Regions from separate parts of the Homo sapiens genome. Here regions 2 and 3 are each linked to region 1. The links come from fine-mapping of genetic effects on gene expression. A gene starts in region 1. Each other region holds a variant in brackets. All regions are shown on one strand. Distances are from middle to middle.

The links. PIP is the estimated chance that this variant, and not a neighbour inherited with it, causes the effect. A credible set is the group of variants that fine-mapping cannot tell apart.
Region 2: its variant is the best candidate, but not a certain one, in a credible set for the expression of NMD3 in iPS cells (iPSCORE, PIP 0.57).
Region 3: its variant is the best candidate, but not a certain one, in a credible set for the expression of NMD3 in tibial artery (GTEx, PIP 0.61).

The regions. Positions count from the first base shown.
Region 1 is chr3:161,218,318-161,223,317 of GRCh38, reverse strand. It overlaps NMD3 (NMD3 ribosome export adaptor), which reads right to left and starts at 2,007. Exons shown (of 16, transcript NM_015938.5): 1 at 1,909-2,007; 2 at 1,261-1,324. The coding sequence starts at 1,304. It also overlaps the pseudogene SRP14P5. RefSeq lists a silencer at 1,645-1,844 and enhancers at 1,764-2,265, 2,325-2,434.
Region 2 is chr3:161,317,318-161,322,899 of GRCh38, reverse strand. No RefSeq gene overlaps it. Among named protein-coding and RNA genes, the nearest start is that of SPTSSB, 51 kb to the left of the region's middle. The variant CA/A (reference allele first, on the strand shown) is at 3,613.
Region 3 is chr3:161,075,995-161,085,981 of GRCh38, reverse strand. It overlaps B3GALNT1 (beta-1,3-N-acetylgalactosaminyltransferase 1 (Globoside blood group)), which reads left to right. Exons shown (of 5, transcript NM_003781.4): 5 at 1-2,099. The coding sequence ends at 223. PPM1L (protein phosphatase, Mg2+/Mn2+ dependent 1L) reads right to left here. Exons shown (of 4, transcript NM_139245.4): 4 at 7,080-9,987. Among named protein-coding and RNA genes, the nearest start is that of B3GALNT1, 24 kb to the left of the region's middle. The variant T/C (reference allele first, on the strand shown) is at 2,644.

The sequences.
Region 1 (5,000 bases):
AAGTTCAATAATCTTCCATGTCCAATGGTAGCCACTAGCCACATGTGGCAACATGGCTAGTACAAACGAGCAACCAAGTATTTAATTTTATTCCATTTAAATTAATTTAGGAAACTTCCAACTTAAACTGCTTGGGGTTTATGTTGACAGAGTGGAGCCAGCGGTACCACCTGGAAAGAAAGCAGTTCCTGACAGAGCTAACCAGGCTCTTCCAGAAGTGCTGGTTGTCCGGAGGGAAGTATAATGGTCAAACAACCCATTCCAAGAAAGGGTTCTGTGAAGGGCTTTGAGCCCTTAGACAAGTGTCTGTTAAAAGCTACTGATAGAACAAGGAAGATCAGCACTATGCTGAGCTCCAAAGACATTTTCAGATGGCTTATTCAAACCCACTGAGCTAACTGATGGACAAGGGAAGAGTAAAGCATCACAGGGAAGGGGGCCAAATTTCCTGCTTTCACTAACCACTGAATTCCTATTTTTCCTTTGGTTTTTACTTTTGGCCACAAAGCTAGTTTCTCCATAGTTACTGTTTTCCTGTGAGATTAGGGTCATTCTAGACAGAAGGACTACAATGTTTACAGGGTAGTTGTGGTAAGAAGCCAATTTATTTTAGATTTAGCTAATTGGTCTGTGCTGAACGATTCCAGGATTATCGTTTAAAAGTCTCTGTAGTAATCTCTTTGAAGAGCACTGTATCATTAAACCTATTTAACAGCAAAAAAAAAAAAGTTAATTTGAACTTAAATGCAAGAAATTAAAAATTGATAACTAAGATTTAAGATGTTCAAAATTTAAAAATTACTACATTATAATCTCCAATAAAAATCAGGAAGTCATCCGAGCTACTCGGGAGGCTGAGGCAGGGAATTGCTTGAACCCGGGAGGTGGAGGTTGCAGTGAGCCGAGATCACACTACTGCACTCCAGCCTGGGCAACAGAGCGAGATTCCGTCTCAAAAAAAAAAAGTAAGTAAAAAGTAAATTTAAATAGCCACACGTAGCTAATGGCTACATATTGGACAGTGCCGATCTAAAAGGATGTATGGTAAATATTTTAACCCTCTTAGAGCTTATATTTACTAGAACAAGCTTTATAACCAGAAACTAATTCGATTTTCTACAGAAATAAGACTTCTATTTTTTCCCATTTATGACAATATACGCTCTTTCCCACCCACCCTCAAGCGTTCTCCATAGTGAGTTTCCCGGGCTCACTGAAGATTTTCACATTTAAGGGGGAAGGAAGAAGTGTCGCACTCACATGTGTCCAGGGCTGCGGTCGGTGGATTCTGCCATATACTCCATCGTTCTGTATGCCTTAAGTTCTTTTAAAAAAAAAAAAAAAAAAAAAAAAAAAAAAGAGAATGTTGGGATTTAAATCACTTTACCTAGTCTCCTCTTTTTACGTCTTCCTCCAGTCTCTCTGAATAATTAATATATTCACAGAACTTCGAAAAAGCAGGAAAGAAGGAAACCCAACTCCACTGGGTAAGTTCGTTAAAAAGAACTTTAAGATGAGGACCATGGGATTTCCTGAGCTTCCCAGCTGCAAGACCCTCGGGCCACCCAGCTCTGCCGCTGACCTCCATCTCACCTGGGCTCCAACCCTGGACGACCAAGGGCGAGGTCAGCTCGGGATTGTGGACGCCCGGGCCCTCCCGCTCTCCACCAGCCCAGGGACCGCACCGGACCACCGCGCCTCAGACCCACGCCACAGGAGTCTCCGGACGGCGTCCCGGCGCCCGAGGGCCACCCACGCCGACCCCCAACCCCGGGGCGCGACCGCACACGGGTTCCGGGCACGCGGCGCTCACGCAGACTGAGCACGGCCCCGAGGCCGGGGAGCCCGCCCCATCCGCTACTCAGGGGCCCGCGGCCGACAGCCCAGGTCTCGGACTCCGGAACCTACTTCGCGCCTCCAGACCAGCCCTGGATTTGCTGAAAACCCGCAACAAAATAGACCCCGGCTGTCCCGTCAGCTGCCAACCTGGCTGTCTCCGCCACAGAGAAGATCTCGCGAGCGAAATGCTCGAAATCCCGCGGCCCGAGTGACGTATTAAAAGGGACGGGGTGGGGACGAGGAAAGGGGCGGCACCGACGGGCGGAAGGGTGATGGGAGCGGCCTGGTGGCTGGGAAAGCTCGCGGAGAGAAGTCCCAGGGGCTCATTTGCCGTCAGTGACTGCTTTTCAGTTATCGTCTCGATTTTCCCAGGCCAGGGTTTACTCCAAACCAACCTCGCCCGTATATTAGTCTCTTTTCAGCTATCCCGACTGTGAGCTTGCTTCTTGATTAAATGATTATTTTATATAAAAGTTATCTGTAAACGGTACCTTATGCAAAGAAACTCCATCCAGGGCAGTGCCTTTTGTCTGTTTGGTTCACCGTCATATACAGGCCTGATGCCTGCCACATGCTAACTGCTCAAATGATTATTTGTTGAAAGAATGAAATGTAAAGCATAATTATCTGTGAAGAAGTCTATGCGATTTTTAGACAAATTATTAATTATGTGCTTCCGGATAGTGCATTTAATATCTTCTTATGACTGATTTATCCCTCAAACTTGGAGCAGCACAGACCGTGTCTAATCTGTCTCATGACAGCCTTTCAAATATTTGAAGAGTACAACCATTTTTTTTTCTAAATCCTCTCATCCCAAATTTCAAGGAATAAGCAAAGGCGTTTTGTAGAGGGTGATCAGAGACAGCCTCTCATCATTTCTTGCCCAGAATACTTAAGTAGCCTCTCGTCTGTTGTCTCTACTTGTAGACTTCAATTCATCCTTCTGAAATGCAGTTCTGATTTTGTCACACTCCCCTGCTTTTAATCCTTCAGTGGCCTCTGATTACCTTCAGCATTATTTCCAGTTTCTTTGTGTGGAAAGAAGACCTTTCAGGATCTGATCTCCACATATCCTGTCCTACTCCCAAGCACACGTACTCGCAAGCCATGAAGACCAACTGGCAGGTCCTCACAGAAAATAGTCTTCCTTTGCTTCTACCCGGGACTCGGCACTAAAGATTAAGCCTGAATTAGTTTCCTAGTGCTGCTCTAACAAATTATCACTGATTTAGTTGGCTTAGAAAACACAAATTTGTTCTCTTCCAGTTCTGGAAGCTACAGGTCTAAATAGATGGTGAGGGCTGACTCTGGAGGCTCCAGGAGAAAATCCATTCCCTGGCCCTTTCCAACTTCTACACGCTGCCCACATTCCTTGGCTTGTGGTCCCACATCATTTTGCAGTCAGAGTCTCCTTTTCTCACCCCCACCCCCCCGCACCCCTCTTACAAGGACACTTGTGATTTCACTGGGCCCAACCAAATAATCCAGAATAATCTCTCCATCTCAAGAAATTTAATCACATCTGTAAAGTTCGTTTGCCATGTTAGGTAATATATTCACAGATTTCAGGGAATAGGACATCTTTGCAGAGCCATTATCCTGTCCACCATACATCCTCTCTTTTCTGACTCCTTCGGTCCCTAAGGGCCAGAGGAGTTACATGCTCCTTCTGTATATATGGTTCTATGATAACACCTTTATACGAGGTATATGCCTCTATAATAGTGCTTTGAATTGGATCATAAATTTTCTACTCTGCATGCCCAGCAGTTTCAAAACCCTGGAGAGCAATTCGGGTCTTGTTCTTCTTGGTGCACCTAGCACAGCAGCTGACACAAAACAGACCCTCAATATATATTGGTAAATTAATTATCCATTTAATACCCACCACAACTCTGAAGAGACAGTGTTTTTCTCCCCGTTTTTTCTATTCACACTGCCTATGCCCTCAACCAAACACCACTAGGAACACAGCTGTAGTTAAGCAGCTTCTGTCTATTTATTACTCTTCGAAGTGAGCCCAGACACTCACCATGGATACCCTTTGGGTATCTCAGTAAGAGGGTGTTTAGAACAAACCTATCATAGGATTGGGGCTTTGGGCGGGTGTTTTCGGGGAGGCCCTAAGAAAATAGAGGTTTTTCTATAGATTGGATGCTGTCAGAAAGCAGGGGCAATTCTGTGATTGGATGTCTCAGTAAATCTTATTTACACAAAGGGAAGCAGGAGGATAAAGCTGCAATTAGCAAAGAAGTAGCAGTCACTCATTTTGGTGAAGAAAGGGAATGTTTGGTATTTTGTGGGTGGCATAGTGAACTTATTTTGGTCTGTGCTTAGACAAAATTATGAAGTGACCTTCTTTGCCTCATTTTATCATGGTTTCAGAGTAATCTTGTCTGAGTTTAGTATTCTGTGAAATTATTTCTGTCTAATAGGAAAATATTATGGCATAGCTGCAAGTACCAGACCAGCTTCTAAATGTCAAAGGCTGCTCATTTTTTAACACATTCCTTCTACAATTATTTGATTTGGCTCTGAATACCAGGCTTCTTAAGCACTTGATGTATGATAATAACAGCACAGATATGGTCCCTGCCCTCATGGACCTTACATATTACAGATGAGGCTGGATTAGATTAGGCAATTTGTTGAAAGTCCTATAGCAAATAATTGATAGAACTGGGACGTGAAATACAGTTTGTTTCTGAACCCAGACCCTCACCATAGCAGCCTACCTCCCCTTCTGAGGCTGAGGCCGTCTATTCCTATCCACAACCTTTTGATAAATGAAATACTTCTGTAGTAGAAGGCACCTATATTTCTCTCTTCATCTGCCAGCCCCCACCACTAAGATTTCCAGATGTCAAAAGTAAGTTCTTGATTTCAACTACCTCTCTCATGAGCCTGAATGAGCTTGCTAGGATTGGACTGAGTGGGATAATATTGGCAAACAATACCAGAGGGAAACTCACTTTGCACTTTTTATTTAACCTCAAATCTCACCTGAAAATAATAGGTGAGATTATTTTCAGCTCCCATAGTCCTTGCACTGAGGATATCTATCTGTATTCAAATCTAAGCCTTAGTATATGTTTACAAACTTCATTTCTATGTGTTTAACCATGGTATTAAAATGGAATTCCTGGCCGAACATAATG
Region 2 (5,582 bases), 99 kb before region 1:
ATTAAATTTAGTGCTTGAAATCTGCACAGGGTGTTATTGAAACACTTACTTGGAGTCAAGAGTAGTTACATCTCCTGAAGAGAAGCATGTGCCATGTGCTGAGGAAAATAATGTGTATTCTGTAGCCACTGGATAAAATGTCCTATAAATATCAATTATGTCTATAGTACAGATTAAGTCCAATGTTTCTTTGTTGATTTTCTGTATGCAGATCAGTCCAGTGCTGAAAGTGGGGTATTGAAGTCTCAAGTTATTATTGTATTAGGGTCTATCTCTCTCTTTAGCTCTAATAAAATTTGCTTTATATACCTGGGTGATCCAGTGTTGGGTGCATATATAATTGTTATATCTTCTTGCTGAATTAACCCCTTTATCATAATATAGTAACCTTCTTTGCCTCTTATAGTTTTTCTCTTTAAATCTATTTTGTCTGATATAAGTATAGCTACTTCTGCTGTTTTTTGGTTTCCACTGGCATGGAATATCTCTTTCCATCCCTTTGTTTTCAGTCTGTGTGTCTTTATAGGTGATGTGTATTTCTTGAAGGCAACAGGTAATTGGGTCTTATTTTTTGGTGGTGGTTGTTTGTTGTTGTTGTTGCTGTTGATGTTTTTTATCCATTCGGCCACTCCATGTCTTTTGATTGGAGAGTTTAGTCCATTTGCATTCAATATTGTTGTTGATAAGTAAGGACTTATCCTGCCATTTTGTTGTTTATATTCTCATTGTTTTGTGATCTTCTCTTCCTTCTTTCTTTTTCTTTCTGTTTTCCTTTTAGCGAAGGTGATTTTCTCTGGCTACATAATTTAGTTTCTTTTGCTTTTTAATTTTTTTGTGTATTCTTTGTGTGTTTTCTGGCTTGAGTTTACCGTGAGGCTTGCAAATACTGTCTTATAACCCATTTTTTAAACCTGATAACATACTGTTTGCATAAACAAGCAAGCAAAAAGAAAGCTAATAAAAGCTATATGCTATAACTTTATTCCCCCACTTTTTAACTTTTTGTTGTTTCTATTTGTATCTTATTGTACTATGTTCTGAAAAGTTATTTTAGTTATTATTTTTGATTGATTAGCTGTTTAGCCTTTCTACTTAAGATAAGGGTAGTTTATACCACAGTTACAGTGTTATAATATTCTGTGTTTTTCTTTGTACTTACAATTACCAGTGAGTTTTGTACCTTCCGGTGATTTCTTATTGCTCATTAACATCCTTTTCTTTGATTCCAGTGCTCCCTTTAGCATTTCTTGTTAGACAGATTTGGTATTGATGAAATCCCACAGCTTTTGTTTGTCTGGGAAAATCTGTATTTCTTCATGTTTGAAGGATATTTTTACTGGATATAGTATTCTACAGAAAAATTTTTATACCTTCAGCACTTTAAATAAGTCATATCACTCTCTCCTATCCTTTAAGGTTTCCACTAAAAAGTCTGTTGCCAGACGTATTGGAGCTCCTTGTATGTTATTTGTTTCTTTTCTCTTGCTGCCTCCTTTCTTTGTCCTTGACCTTTCGGGAGTTTGATTATTAAAAGCCTTGAGGTAGTCTTCTCTGGGTTAAATCTACTTGGTGTTCTATAACCTTCTTGTACTTGGATATTGGTATCTTTATCTAGGTTTGGGAAGTTATCTGTTATTATCCCTTTGAAGAAAATTGCTACCCTTATCTCTTTCTCTACCTCCTCTTTAAGGAGATAATTCTTAGATTTTGTTTTAAGGCCATTTTCTAGATCTTGTAGGTGTGCTTTATTGTTTGTTAATCTTTTTTCTTTTGCCTCCTCAGTCTGTGTATTTTTATTTAGCATGTCTTCAAGCTCACAAATTCTTTCTTCTGCTTGACAAATTATGTTATTAAAGGATTCTGATGCATTCTTCAGTATGCCCAATGCATTTTTCAACTCCAGAATTTCTGCCTGATTCTTTTTAATTATTTCAATATTTTTGTTAAACTTATCTAATAAAATTCTAAATTCCTTCTCTATGTTATCTTGAATTTCTTTGAGTTTTCTCAACGCAGCTATTTTGAATTCTCTATCTGAAGGGTCATATATCTGTTACTCCAGGACTGGTTCCCTGATGCTTTATTTAGTTCATTTGGTGAGGCCATGTTTTCCTGGATGGTTTTGATACTTGTAGATGTCCATCTGTGGCTGGGTATTGAAGAATTAGGTGTTTATTGTAGTCTTCACAGCCTGGGCTTGTTTGTACCCATCCTTCTTGGGAAGGCTTTCCAGATATTTGAAAGGACTTGGGTGTTGTGAACTAAGCTGTATCTGTTTTAGGGGGCACCCCAAGCCCAGTAAGGCTGTGGTTCTTGCAGATTTGTCGAGGTACCAACTTGCTGGTCTTAGAAAAGATCCAGAATAATTTTCTGGATCATCAGGCAGAGACTCTTGCTCTTTTCTCTTACTTTCTCCCAAAGACACTGGGTCTCTCTCTGTTCTGATCCACTTGGAACTGGAGGTGACATGTCACAGGCACCCTTGTGGCCACCACCATTAAAACTGTGCCTCATCAGACTTTAAGCAGCACAGCATTGTGTTTCACTCAAGGCCTACTCTAGCCACTCCCTGGTTACTGTCTATGTTCACTCAAGGCCCTTGGGCTCTACAATCCATAATGGCAAAGGCTGCCAAGCCTGTATCCTTCCCTTCAGGGCAGTAAGTTCCCGTAGTCCCTGAGAAGGTCCAGATGTGCCATCCAGGAGCCAGGGACCACAGTCAAAAACCTTAGAAATATAACTGGTGTTCTATTGTACTGCAGCTAAGCTGGCACTCAAACCACAAGACACAGTTCTTCCCACTTTTCCTTCTCCTTTGCAAAGGCAGACGAGCCTTACCTCATAGCTACTACTACCACAGGCCCACAGAGAGTACAGCCAGATTGCCACTGATGTTTCCTTAAGGCCCAAGGGCTCTTCAGTCAGCTTGTGGTGAATGCTGCCTGGCATCAGCCTCACCCTTCAGGGTAGCGGGCTCCCCTCTGCCCAGGGCAGGTCCAGAAATGCCATCCAATAGGCAAATCCTAGAATCAGGGACCTCAAGACCCCTCTGGGTACTCTACCCTGCTGTGGCCAAACTGGTATTCAAAGTGCAAGGCAAAGTCCCCTTTACATTTCCTTCTATTTTCTCAAGCAGAAGGAGTCTCACCCAATAGGCACCACAGTTGGGAATGTGCTGAGTATCACCTGAAGTCAGCAAGTCTCAGAGGCTCACTCAAGGCCCTGGATGTATTAATATTACCTGAGCATTGCTGCTGGTTATTCAGGGCCCATAGGCTCTTCAGTTAGCAGGTGGTGAATCCTGCCATGGCTGAGTCCTTCCCTTCAAGGCAGTGGATTCCCTTCTGGCCCAGGGTGTGTCTAGAAATGTCATCAGGCAGCTAGGGCCTGGAAAGGGGACCTCACACCTCTAACTGGTGCCCTATCCTGCTGTGGCTGAGCTGGCATCCAAGATGCAAGTCTTCCTCACTCTTCCCACTCCTCTCCTCAAGTGGAAGAAAGGTGTTTATTTTGGAGCTGCAAGTTGTGCAGCGTGGGTTTAGGGGAAGGGTGATGCCAGCACTCTTTTGGCTGTTCCAGCTGGTATCTCAGTATGTCACATGCCCCCCCCCC[CA/A]CCCCACTTCCCCCGCCCAGTCCACTGACCTGGGCTCAGTTCAGTCCTAGGACTTCCCTAGGTGTTGCAGTCCTCGTGTCCTAGACTGCCTTTCAAGCTTATGTAGAGCCACAGAACACTTTAGCCCACAGTGGTGGGGCTTGTGGAACTCAAGTTCTAGCCACTGGGATCAGTGATTCCCCTCTGGCTATGGCTGATTTAAATGCTTCCTCCATGGGCAGGCATCAGCTGAGTTTGGTACAGTTTTTCTTTCTGCTATAACAGAGCAAGACTGAGTTTAGTGCCTCACAATTTCTGTGTTCCCCTTTCCCTAGCTCACAGAAAGGCTCTCAGTACCATGCCACCACTGCTAGGAGATGGGGCAGGCCAGGTGTTGGCAATTCAAGGCTGTTTTTTCTACCTCTTCAGTGCCTCTTTCAGAGACATGAGGTTAAAACTAGGTACTGCGAGTGCTCATCTAATTTTTGGTTCTCATTAAAGTGATTTTTCCATGCAGATAGTTGTTAATTAGGTATCCTTGCAGGGGGAGAAATTAGTGGAGCTTTCTAGTCCACCATCTTGGTCCACATCCATAGAGTGTACATGTATTTTTTAGTGACATGTTGACAGTTACATAGTCTGCCACAGTCATGTAAATTCAAACTAATTTCTCTGTAAAAAGGAGTTAATAGTCTTATTTGATTAAGCTTTCATCTTTAGCAACATTGAAATCCTAGATCCTCCTTTAACAATGCCATAATACTAGAGGGAGAAATGTGAGATTGAGATTGGGACTATCCACACATAGCTCTCTAATCCCATGCTTCCCGGAGGATCTTAATCAGCAAACTCAGAGTTGAAAAAAGAAATTATTCTGTTTTATCTTTTTTTTTTTTTTTTTTAAGAGACGTGGGGTCTCACACTATGTTGCCCTGGCTGGACTCAAACTTCTGGGCTCAAGTGTTCCTCCTGCCTCTGCCTCCTGAGGAGCTGGAACTACAGGTATGTGTCACTGTGCCCCGCAATTTCATCTTACTTTAACAATTCTTTCTATTTTATTATCTCTATTATTTTAACACAGTCTAATTTCTATTTTGAGTGCACATCCTGCTAAGCAGGGAGGAAACACAACCTCAGACCTCAGGGCTCTTCCCCTCTGGTCAAGCTGCTGTCTCAGACTCAGGCAGTGGAAGACATTCAGGGAAAGGTAGGCTGCCTCTGAGACATTTATCATCCACAGTGGAGGACCCTGGAATTTCAGGGTCTTTCCACTCCTACCCTGACCTATCTGGGGCATGAAGTTCTCTGTAAAACTGCCGCAAGCAGCCTTCGCAACTCTAGTGTCTTGCCACCCTCCCAAAACCCTGCCTAAAAGTTTAGCAAGAGTACCATAGCAGTTAAAATAAATGAAGCTGGTTTATCTGGGTTCTAATTCCAGCCCTGCTACTTACTAGCTGTGAGATCAGCAAATTATATCTTCTTTCTCTGTCTCACTTTCTTCATTTGTAAGCTGGGAATATAGTATCTAACTCAAGGGGTTGTTGTGAGAAGAAAACATACCAAGCATTTAGAATAATGTCTGACGTAAGAATCTCATACGTTTTGATATTCACTAAAATGTAAGCTTCATGAGGGCATTTGTTCTAATTTTATCTATTTGTTCACTGCTCTTGAAACAGTGCCTGGTGTAAAAAAAGTTGAATGAATGAATGTTGAAAGATTCAGAATGTCAACCTAAATAACAAATTAAGAGAGGCTCTATTAGAAAAAATGATGTTTATTTGAGAATAGAGAATTGCAATGGGAATACGTCTGCCATAGTAAACTATGTGTATATTCAGGGAGGTAAAGGAAGACAAAGATTTTTAAAGGAAAAAATTAGGAAGATTACATAATTGTTTTGAAAAAAAATTATCCTTATCTACAAAGATCAATAACAAAAGATTAGTTGGGCTCAGTGGTGCGCACCTGTAGTCCCAGCTACTCTGGA
Region 3 (9,987 bases), 140 kb after region 1:
TCACGTAAAACCCATCAAGTTTGAAGATGTTTATGTCGGGATCTGTTTGAATTTATTAAAAGTGAACATTCATATTCCAGAAGACACAAATCTTTTCTTTCTATATAGAATCCATTTGGATGTCTGTCAACTGAGACGTGTGATTGCAGCCCATGGCTTTTCTTCCAAGGAGATCATCACTTTTTGGCAGGTCATGCTAAGGAACACCACATGCCATTATTAACTTCACATTCTACAAAAAGCCTAGAAGGACAGGATACTTTGTGGAAAGTGTTAAATAAAGTAGGTACTGTGGAAAATTCATGGGGAGGTCAGTGTGCTGGCTTACACTGAACTGAAACTCATGAAAAACCCAGACTGGAGACTGGAGGGTTACACTTGTGATTTATTAGTCAGGCCCTTCAAAGATGATATGTGGAGGAATTAAATATAAAGGAATTGGAGGTTTTTGCTAAAGAAATTAATAGGACCAAACAATTTGGACATGTCATTCTGTAGACTAGAATTTCTTAAAAGGGTGTTACTGAGTTATAAGCTCACTAGGCTGTAAAAACAAAACAATGTAGAGTTTTATTTATTGAACAATGTAGTCACTTGAAGGTTTTGTGTATATCTTATGTGGATTACCAATTTAAAAATATATGTAGTTCTGTGTCAAAAAACTTCTTCACTGAAGTTATACTGAACAAAATTTTACCTGTTTTTGGTCATTTATAAAGTACTTCAAGATGTTGCAGTATTTCACAGTTATTATTATTTAAAATTACTTCAACTTTGTGTTTTTAAATGTTTTGACGATTTCAATACAAGATAAAAAGGATAGTGAATCATTCTTTACATGCAAACATTTTCCAGTTACTTAACTGATCAGTTTATTATTGATACATCACTCCATTAATGTAAAGTCATAGGTCATTATTGCATATCAGTAATCTCTTGGACTTTGTTAAATATTTTACTGTGGTAATATAGAGAAGAATTAAAGCAAGAAAATCTGAAGTATTGTCTTGTTTTTAAAAAATACAGTTCCTAGTGTTTTTAGAAGTCACTTAATTTGTCTCATTTTTCCACCTGGAAATTAGGAATAATGTAGAATGCAAGGCAGTAATTTCCTTTTGGAAAGGACTCTGAAGGCAGAAAAGAAGGGAGAGAACCTCATGGGCAGAATATTATAAAAAGAGTGTCATATTCCAGCATTTGAATTGGAAAGAGAAGAGTGAAGATCCAAGTTGCATTATTAATCTGCCCTGTGTTTTTTCCTTTTAACAATCAGTTTGAGCTGCTGCTGTTATGAGTTTCTCATCAAGATGAAAGCCCTAATATGTAAAGTCAAATCCGATTTAAATTTTGTGCTTTTATAGAAAGAAATTTCTTCATAGACGTGGTGATATATCATTTGTTGGACCTGCTAATAGTAGGTCAAAGGGGAGCACTCCTTGCCCCCTGTTCCTGGGTTTATGCAGTTTTCTTTTTAGAGTTTATATAGGGCAAGTGGTTCTTTTTCTCTGAATTACAGGATGGAAAAAGGTCATATCCTTTGTCAGGAAATATAAACTTGAAAGTATGTAGTCAGCTCTTGTAATACTCATATTTATGATTGTCCTATATGAAAAACAACTTCAGTTAAAACTATAATGTGTGATTCTGTATAACAAGGTGATGTCTGTTTCCCAGGGCTCAGACCTAATCCAGTTATAATAAAATCAATTAAATGAAATATTCTATAGAATCGATCTATGCCCTTGTTAATCTCCATCCATATAGGAGTCACGTTCTTTAAGACAGATGGTGGTAGTTATTTTTGTGGCATGGTTAGATTTGACTGGTTTTGCAGAAGATTACAGTTATGTACTGCATAATGACATATACAATAGTGGTCCCATAAAATTATAATGGAGCAGAAAATCTATTGCCTCATGATGTTTTAGCCGTTTTAATGTCATAGCCTAGTGCATTACTCACGTGTCTGTGGAGATGCTGGTGTAAACAAACCTACTACACTGCCAGTTGTATAAAAGTACAGCACATTCAGTTATGTACAGTATGTAATACTGATAATGACAATAAATGACACCGGTTTGTGTATTTACTTTTTATAATTAGAGTGTTCTATTCCTACTTATTAAAAAAATGTTTAATAGAGCCTTGGGCAGGTCCTTCAGGAGGTATTCCAGAAGAAAGCATTGTTATCATAGGAGATGACAGCTCCATTCATGCTATTTCTCCTGAAGACCTTCCAGTGAGACAAGATGTGGTGATAGAAGACAGTGATACTGATGATCCTGACCCTGTGGGCCTAGGCTAATGTGTGTGTTTGTGTCTTAAGTTTTTAACAAAGTTTAAAAAGTAGAAAAATAAAGTTTAAAATAGGAAAAAACTTACAGAATAAGGATATAAAGATATTTTTGTGCAGTTTTACAAGATGTTTGTGTTTTAAATTTAAGCTAAGTGTCAAAAAACTTTGACAAAAGAGTCAAAGTTTGAAAGTTTGTAAAGTTAAGTTACGGTGAGTTAAGGTTAATTACTGAAGAAAGAAAATTGTTAAATGAATTTAGTGTGGCCTACTTTAAATGTGCCATGTTTGTAAAGTCTACAGTAGTGCACAGTAATGTTTGAGGCCTTCACATTCACCCACCACTCACT[T/C]AGTGACTCACACAGAGCAACTTCCACCCCTGCAAGCTCTATTAATGGTAAGTGCCCTCCCTATACAGGTGTACTATTTTTTATCTTTTATACTGTTTGGTTTTTTTTACTGTGCTTTTTCTATTTTAGATACACCAGTACCATTGTGTGACAGTTTCCAACAGTAAGTATTCAGTACAGTAACATTCTGTACAGGTTTATAGCCTAGAAGCGATAGGCTCTACCATGTAGCCTAGGTGTATAGTAGGCTATGCCATCTACGTTTGTGTAAGTACACTCTAATGTTTGCACAACGACAAAATCACCTATTTCTCAGAATGTATCTCCATTGCTAAGTGCCACATTTCTGTATATCGATGTTTGGGAAGCTAACTCAAAACATTTCTAGAGAGAACTTTTAACATAAAAAATAATTCCCTTTCACTTTTAGAAAAGACCAAAAAACAAAAAAAAAACAAACAAGTTTCAGAAGATTGTTTCTTTTGAACTGAAGATTGGTGCCTAAAAGAACCTACAAAGTTAAATGATTAGGAAAACATTAAGAGATTGGGTCATTATATTTTTTGTTTTCAACTATATTAAGCTTTCAGGAAGTAAATATTAGCTGTGTTATTAAAATCATGACCTGGTGTTTAACCAAATCAGCAGCTTTAAAAATTTTAACTCATATAACAACGTTTAATACTGGAGCTTATCCTTGGGCTGATTTGGTCCCATCTGCCTTAGCCCTGCCATCCCCATAGTTTCACACACCCTCTGCCTCACTTGCTTTCCTTGTCTGCAGGTGTTGAGTTTGTGACTTTTAGCACATTAGTTAGCTTTGCTAAGGGTCACAAATGCTACAGTAACGCCCAAATCTCAGACTTGATGACAACCAATGTTTTCACTCAGTTGCATGGCAGTGGTTGGCTGCAACCCTGCTCTATGTCTTTTTCATTCCAGGATCCAGGCTGATGGGCAGCCCGTTTGGAACATGCTGTTCTTATAGAAGGAAATTAAAAAGCTGGTGGAAGCACAGTGGCATATATTAATACATCCACTGGCTGAGATGAATCCCTTGCCAAGCCCAGTGTCACTGAGGTGGGGAAGTATATTTCTCTTGCAGGAAGTAACTGCAAGTGATGTTGCAGCATGCAGGAATGTATTGTTCCACAGAATGGGGAATGAAAAACTGAGTGCAGTCGTACTGTAAGCTGCCACACTCAGTGTCTGAAAGGGAGAGGGAGCCTTCAGACAATGCCAGACAACTCTGCAACAGACCCCAATTTAGGCCCTGTAAACCAGAAATGTAAGAAATAATTTTTGCCTAATGCTGCCAACTTTGGGGATGCTTTCTTACGATAATTAAAACATTTCTCACCAAGGAAATTTCCCATTGTCTGTGGCCCCGGGGCCAAGACTTCTCTCCTCACATCTGGCCACTCCTCTATACATGCCGGGCCTTACCCCTGCTTGAGGTTATCAACGAGTAATTTCCAAAACTCCTTTCCACTTAGCCCTCTTTCTGTTTCACTTTCTCCTTTCAGACCATGTGGGAAGCAAGGCAGGGGTGAATGCTGCTTAACATTTCTCCCCCCCCACACTCCCCCCAAAAAAACTCATTCAAGGCATTTCCCAGATAAAAGGAAATCAACTTCTCTAAAGATAAATTTTGTCATTCTTTTAAAAGGTTGCAGCAGCTGCTGTGATGGTTCTAAATGCCACTCTTCCCTCTCTTGCAACATATGTACAAACTACAGAAACAGGATGAAAATATAACAAAATTTGAACAGAAAATGCCTCTCAAAAGATTTCTTCCTACTTTAAAAGTACCTTTTATTACATTCTCAACAATGAGGATAAATCATTTTTATAACACAGATGTTTTAACAAATACATTAACAAATTTAGGTAAAGGTAAAAAGTGGCATCAAAATGTTATGAGCAAAGGCTGCTGCGGTGCAGGCCAAATGCTGTGTTTGCCGGTAAGCCCCCAGCCTCACGTGCCCACCATCCCGCTTTCTTCTGTGCAGGCAGGGGCTGCCTCCCATCCTCAGTCACTTTTGTTGTTTAAGACGGTCTCGCTCTGTCGCTCAGGCTGGAATACAGTGGCACGATCATAGCTTTACTACAGCCTCGAGCTTTTGGGTCCAAGTGATCCACCTCAGCACCCCCCAAGTATCTGGGACTACAGGCGTGTGCCACCACACCTGGCTAATTATTCAAAAACTTTGTAGAGATGGGGCTTACTATGTTGCTCAGGCTGCCACTGCCCTTTACCAGCCTTTGTTGCCCCTCATGCTTTGACATGTGAACCAATCCCAGCCAGTGGGACCCCAGGCGATGTCTGCTGGTGGGCTTCTGGGGGTATTCCTTTCTAATAAAGACAAAGGAGAAATTCTTTTCTTTGGCCAGATGTTGTGTCTGCAATGATAGTATCTGAAGCAACCGTGTGGGTCCCATGAGAACAGCCTAAAGGCCAGGGCAGTGGCTGAGGTGGAGACCCTGGCTCTTGATGGCATCATTGAGCCACTGAACCAACCCTGTGACCACAGACTTCTTGCCCCTGCATATGTGAGTTCACCACCATGGTGGGTGCAGTGGTCTGTTACAGCTGAGGGCATCCAAAGTTTAGGAACATACGAAACAGTTTTCCTCTTCCTGAGGGTCAGCGCCAATGATGAGCGGGGCCGAAGTGAAGAGATAAACCCAATTTCCTATGAGGCAGATAGAAAGCAGCTTGTCCGTGACACAGGAGCTCCATGCTCTGGGATGCATCTTGTTGGAGAATGGATCCCAGCCTGAGTGAGCAGCCCACACTGATGGATTGGGGATAGCGGAAATTAAAAAATGCCTTCTGTTCCTCTCTTCCTTGCTCCTCAATAGGTGATTACCTTCCATTTCAGGCAGCAGAGTCTGAATTCCTATCTGCTGGGAGCACGGAAAGGGGCACAGCATCCTGGTTACAAACCTGAAGAGTGTACACATCTCTCACTAATGAAGCCATCACAATATGGAGCCAGGTCTTCCCATTTGAACGAGGAGAGAGGACAGGGTCACATTTGCTTGCCTTTTACTGCTTACTCACTGAACAGCATCAGGGAAGGTTTACTTTATGAACCTGGCACAAAGTAGGTTCTGGGCCTGATGTTAACAACATTCACTCTGCCCTCTTCACAAATGAAAAGGTGGAAAATTTCTGACTTCTGGTAAATTCACATTGCAATGACTGTTTCTCTGGACACAGATCTTGCAGTTCTCCCATCCCTCAAGGCTGCTGTGATTGATTTATTTTAAAAAGTCTTTCACGGTTTCAGGAGAAGAACAGTTGAAAAACTATAGGTAGAGGTTAATTTGGTGTTCACAAATCAAGTGATAGTTCACTCTATCTCATAGCTCAATGAATAGTAGGATTAGGAGAGAAATTTAACTTCACTTTTGTAGTGAATCCCTTTTTATATGTACCTTTAAAACTTTTGCACTTCCTTTTTTTTCTCCTTTAGTGAACCTTAGCATATAAACAAGATAATTTTTTAAAAAAGCATTTTATAGGTAGAAATGAACTTTTATATTTATCAGACTTGAATTTGAAAGCAGGTAGAGTAGGCAATTGTTTCGTCTGCGTAACAAACTCCTTTTCTTTCCCCTTTTTTTTTAAAAAAAATTATTCTTTTTAAGAGATGGGGTCTCACTGTGTTGACCAGGCTGGTCTCAAACTCCTGAGCTCAAGTGATCCTTCTGCTTTGGCCTCCCAAAGTATAGGTATTACAGGTGAGAGCCACTATGTCTGGCCCCAACTTTTTCTAGAAAATTCTGAGAATTGTCTAATCCACGAACTCCATCTACATGGTTAGTCCAAGTCACCGTGTTACTACAATATGGCCTAAGCCATGAGTACTACCCACTCTTCAGAGTCTAGAATCCTGGAGAGAGTTTACCTCTATTTCATTCTGTCTCCAAATTTTACAGTATTTCTTCCTGCATTGAGTGAAAACCTTTGCAGATGGATATTCTGTTCTGAACACTTTTCTCAGAGGTGCATCATGCTGTGTTGCTGGAGCCTACATCTGTGTATAATGTAACCCTTGTTACCTTATAGTAATTACTATATAAACTTTGTCGATGTGTTACTATAAAGCTGGGTAAAAGTTGTGTTAGGTTTACAATAAACATTTTTTGTTGCATACATTGTATATATGTTTATAAATTGCCTTGTTTTGAACCAGAGCCAGGCTTATTCCCATTCCAAATGAAAGCACCAAAGTCTCAAAACCTCCTGCCTCTTGCTTCTGTTAGGCTTTGGTCTTATCCTCTACCCATGAATTGTTTCTTTGCTTTCCACATAGAACCCTAGCTCAAGCTACTCCAACTCAAAAGCATAGAGAAATTATAAAATTCAAGAACAGATGTTAGAATGGAAAATGAGTTTAACTTAAAAGAATACCAGCAGTCTCATGTTTAAAGTCTAACAACTTTGTGTTTATTTTTGCTTTAATCTTGTCATGGGTAAATTTTTAGCTGTTCATTTTTATACAACACCACAGGATCAGAGATAGCATGAACACATTAGTCTCTACAAGGCTAATTCTACCCGAGCACCCATCAAAGCGACCCAAATGACACGCCATGCATCTTGAGTGACCGTGCACTGCCATATACTCTGAGCTCTACTACAGGTAATGTTACACCAAATTGACATTGTAACTGTGTTTCAAATGTCTCTTAGAGACAAATACAGATCAGTAGGTATAATAACCTCTGAAGACTTCCAAGAGTAATGAGGTTTCGCCAAGCCTTGTTGTATTTATCATGGATGGTTTTCAGGAAATAACTTACGAGAAAGCCTGATTGATTTTACAGTCATTTTGACCTGTGATTTATTTATTAAGTACAATTTGAAGATTCCTAAAATAAAGTATTGCCAATAAATTATAGATCCTGTATCTCTTTATAAACAAATAATCCCTTGTGATTTTTAAAGTTGCAAGAAAATGCTGATGGAAAAATTTTCATGATGTTGAAATAGGTATAAATAAAAGCTTATACAAAGCCACTGTCTCAACATCAGCAGGATAAGAGAGAAGAACTTCTGAGACATTATACTGTTCCCCAAAAAAACACTACTTTTTTTCCTTCCCCTTTTTCTCTCCTCACTCTGTGCTTTCCTCCTTTCCATCCTTAATAACTGAGCTCCATCTATGGTTTTAATCTTACTAAATCAGAAATTGGCTTGGTTTCATTTGAATTTCCTTTTATATGTGCTCATGATTAAAAACAAAACAAAAACCCTACTTTTGATCACAATCAGATCTTTACCGTCTCTAACCATTTACTGCCTAGTATATGAAGTATATGAATTATTCTAATTCAATAGGATTCTAATGCAATTTGGCAATAACTAGTATTATTTGGATTTAAAAAGCCATTGGCATAAACAGAGATGTTTAGGGGAAATGAGCAGGCAAGCAAATAATTTAGAAAGAAGTGATGGTTTCTGTGGTTAAAAATAAAAGTCTGGGATTTAGTTTTTCTTTGCCATACAGAAAACAGATGTTGCTATTTTTGTTCAAAATACAAAACTTAAATTCCATGCTTAGACTCTGGAATGTGTAAAGTAACTATGGATACCAAATTTATGATTTAAAAAAATGACATTTAGTCTTCTGTTCATATTTGAAATCAGGAAATAATTGTGCTCCTGAAATGTTAACTTTCTATATAACAGATTCACTGATTTACACTCAGGAACACTGAAGATACTCAGTTCTGGGCTGTCTTTGGGGGCATAAGGTTATTACACTAGTCTCTTGGGAACAAAAATAAAAATAGGCCATGGAGAGATGTTCTTGCTCCTCCCTTTTCTCCTTTTCTATAATCCTTCTCTTCCCCTAGAAAGATCTGGACAACCTGGCTTTCACCAGCCTACTGCTGCACCCTTGCACAGCTGCTGGCCCACTTGGGTGGAGGCTTCCAGTGGCACCCTCCACTGGGACAGTCCCACCCCCCTATCCTTGTCCCCAGAGGCTCCATGTCTCACTCCCCACCCCATCCTTCAGAAACTAGGTGAGCTAGTAAAATGGAGTAATTATCTTCTGCAGTTTGCTTGAGTGTTGGCAAGAAATTCCCAATCTCATATCACTTACTCTTATATGTGAGAAATAATTATTCTAATTCTGCCCTGTCCCAACAAATCTAAGCCCATTGGAAGAAATCATGAAGATAACAATTTTCATCCCATTGGGTCAATATTGAGTGTTATAATATCTCTGACACCCCAATAGGGTGTAAGCCCCAAGAAGGCAGTGATGGCGCCTGAGTGCTCACCATGGATACATTCACTCAGACACAGTCACTGCCTGGCACATAGTAGATGCTCACACAAAAAAGGAAAGAATAAAATATACAAACACACAGCAATAATAGTGACTTTCCCAATGTAATCTGTTCATAAGATTGATCAATCTGTTATAAATGCAATGATGCTTCTATTTATTTTTAAGAAAAAAACTCATACATTTTCCTTATACAAATTATGTATGTGAGCAGAGTTTACATTGGGGTCTTTTGGAATGAACTGTTTAATTACTATTTTCCAGGTTTGTCAGAATAATCATTTATCTGAACCCACTAAAATTTCTATTTGTCTTTCTCTCTCTTTTTTTTTTTCCTGGCTGCCCATGAGAATGCTGAGACATTATCAAATAGATTTCAATTCTGTGACCTGAACTGCAGTTGTGTAAGTGCTATAAATCAAAATCATTTGCTTTAGTAATTGAAGAGTAAACTGAAAGACAATATTGTAGATGTTAATGTTTCAATGTGAACATGTAATAAATTAAAAAGAACAAACACTGCTTTCTATAATAGAAGCAAAAGTTATGGGTTTTCTCCATGGTCATATTTTATTCATTATTCTACTTTCTGCACACTGTATATGCTTGAGATAAAACAATAACCAAGATGATAAATACATAAAGACTGTTAGTTGTAGTCTGGGAGCCTAAATCAGAGGAGTATTCTTGCTTAATGTCCCATGGTTCTAGCTTTTCTCCACAGAGCAGGATTTAGACGTTTTCATTACTACACGAAGAAGTCATCATTTGTCCTAAGATAGACAAATGGGAATTTAAAAGTTATACAAAAGACATCTTTTTCTTGGGTTAGAGATGTCTAATACATCATTTCTACAGGATTAATTTTTTTAATCATATGAGCAACCTGACCCATTGCATTATATGGATTAGAAAACTCTCTAAGAAGCAAGAATATCAAATCACTCTGTGGTTGGTTTTTGTGAAATTGTCTGTCGTAAATTGAGTACTCACTAGTATTCATGTTGGCATTTGCAAAATTACCACTATGTTA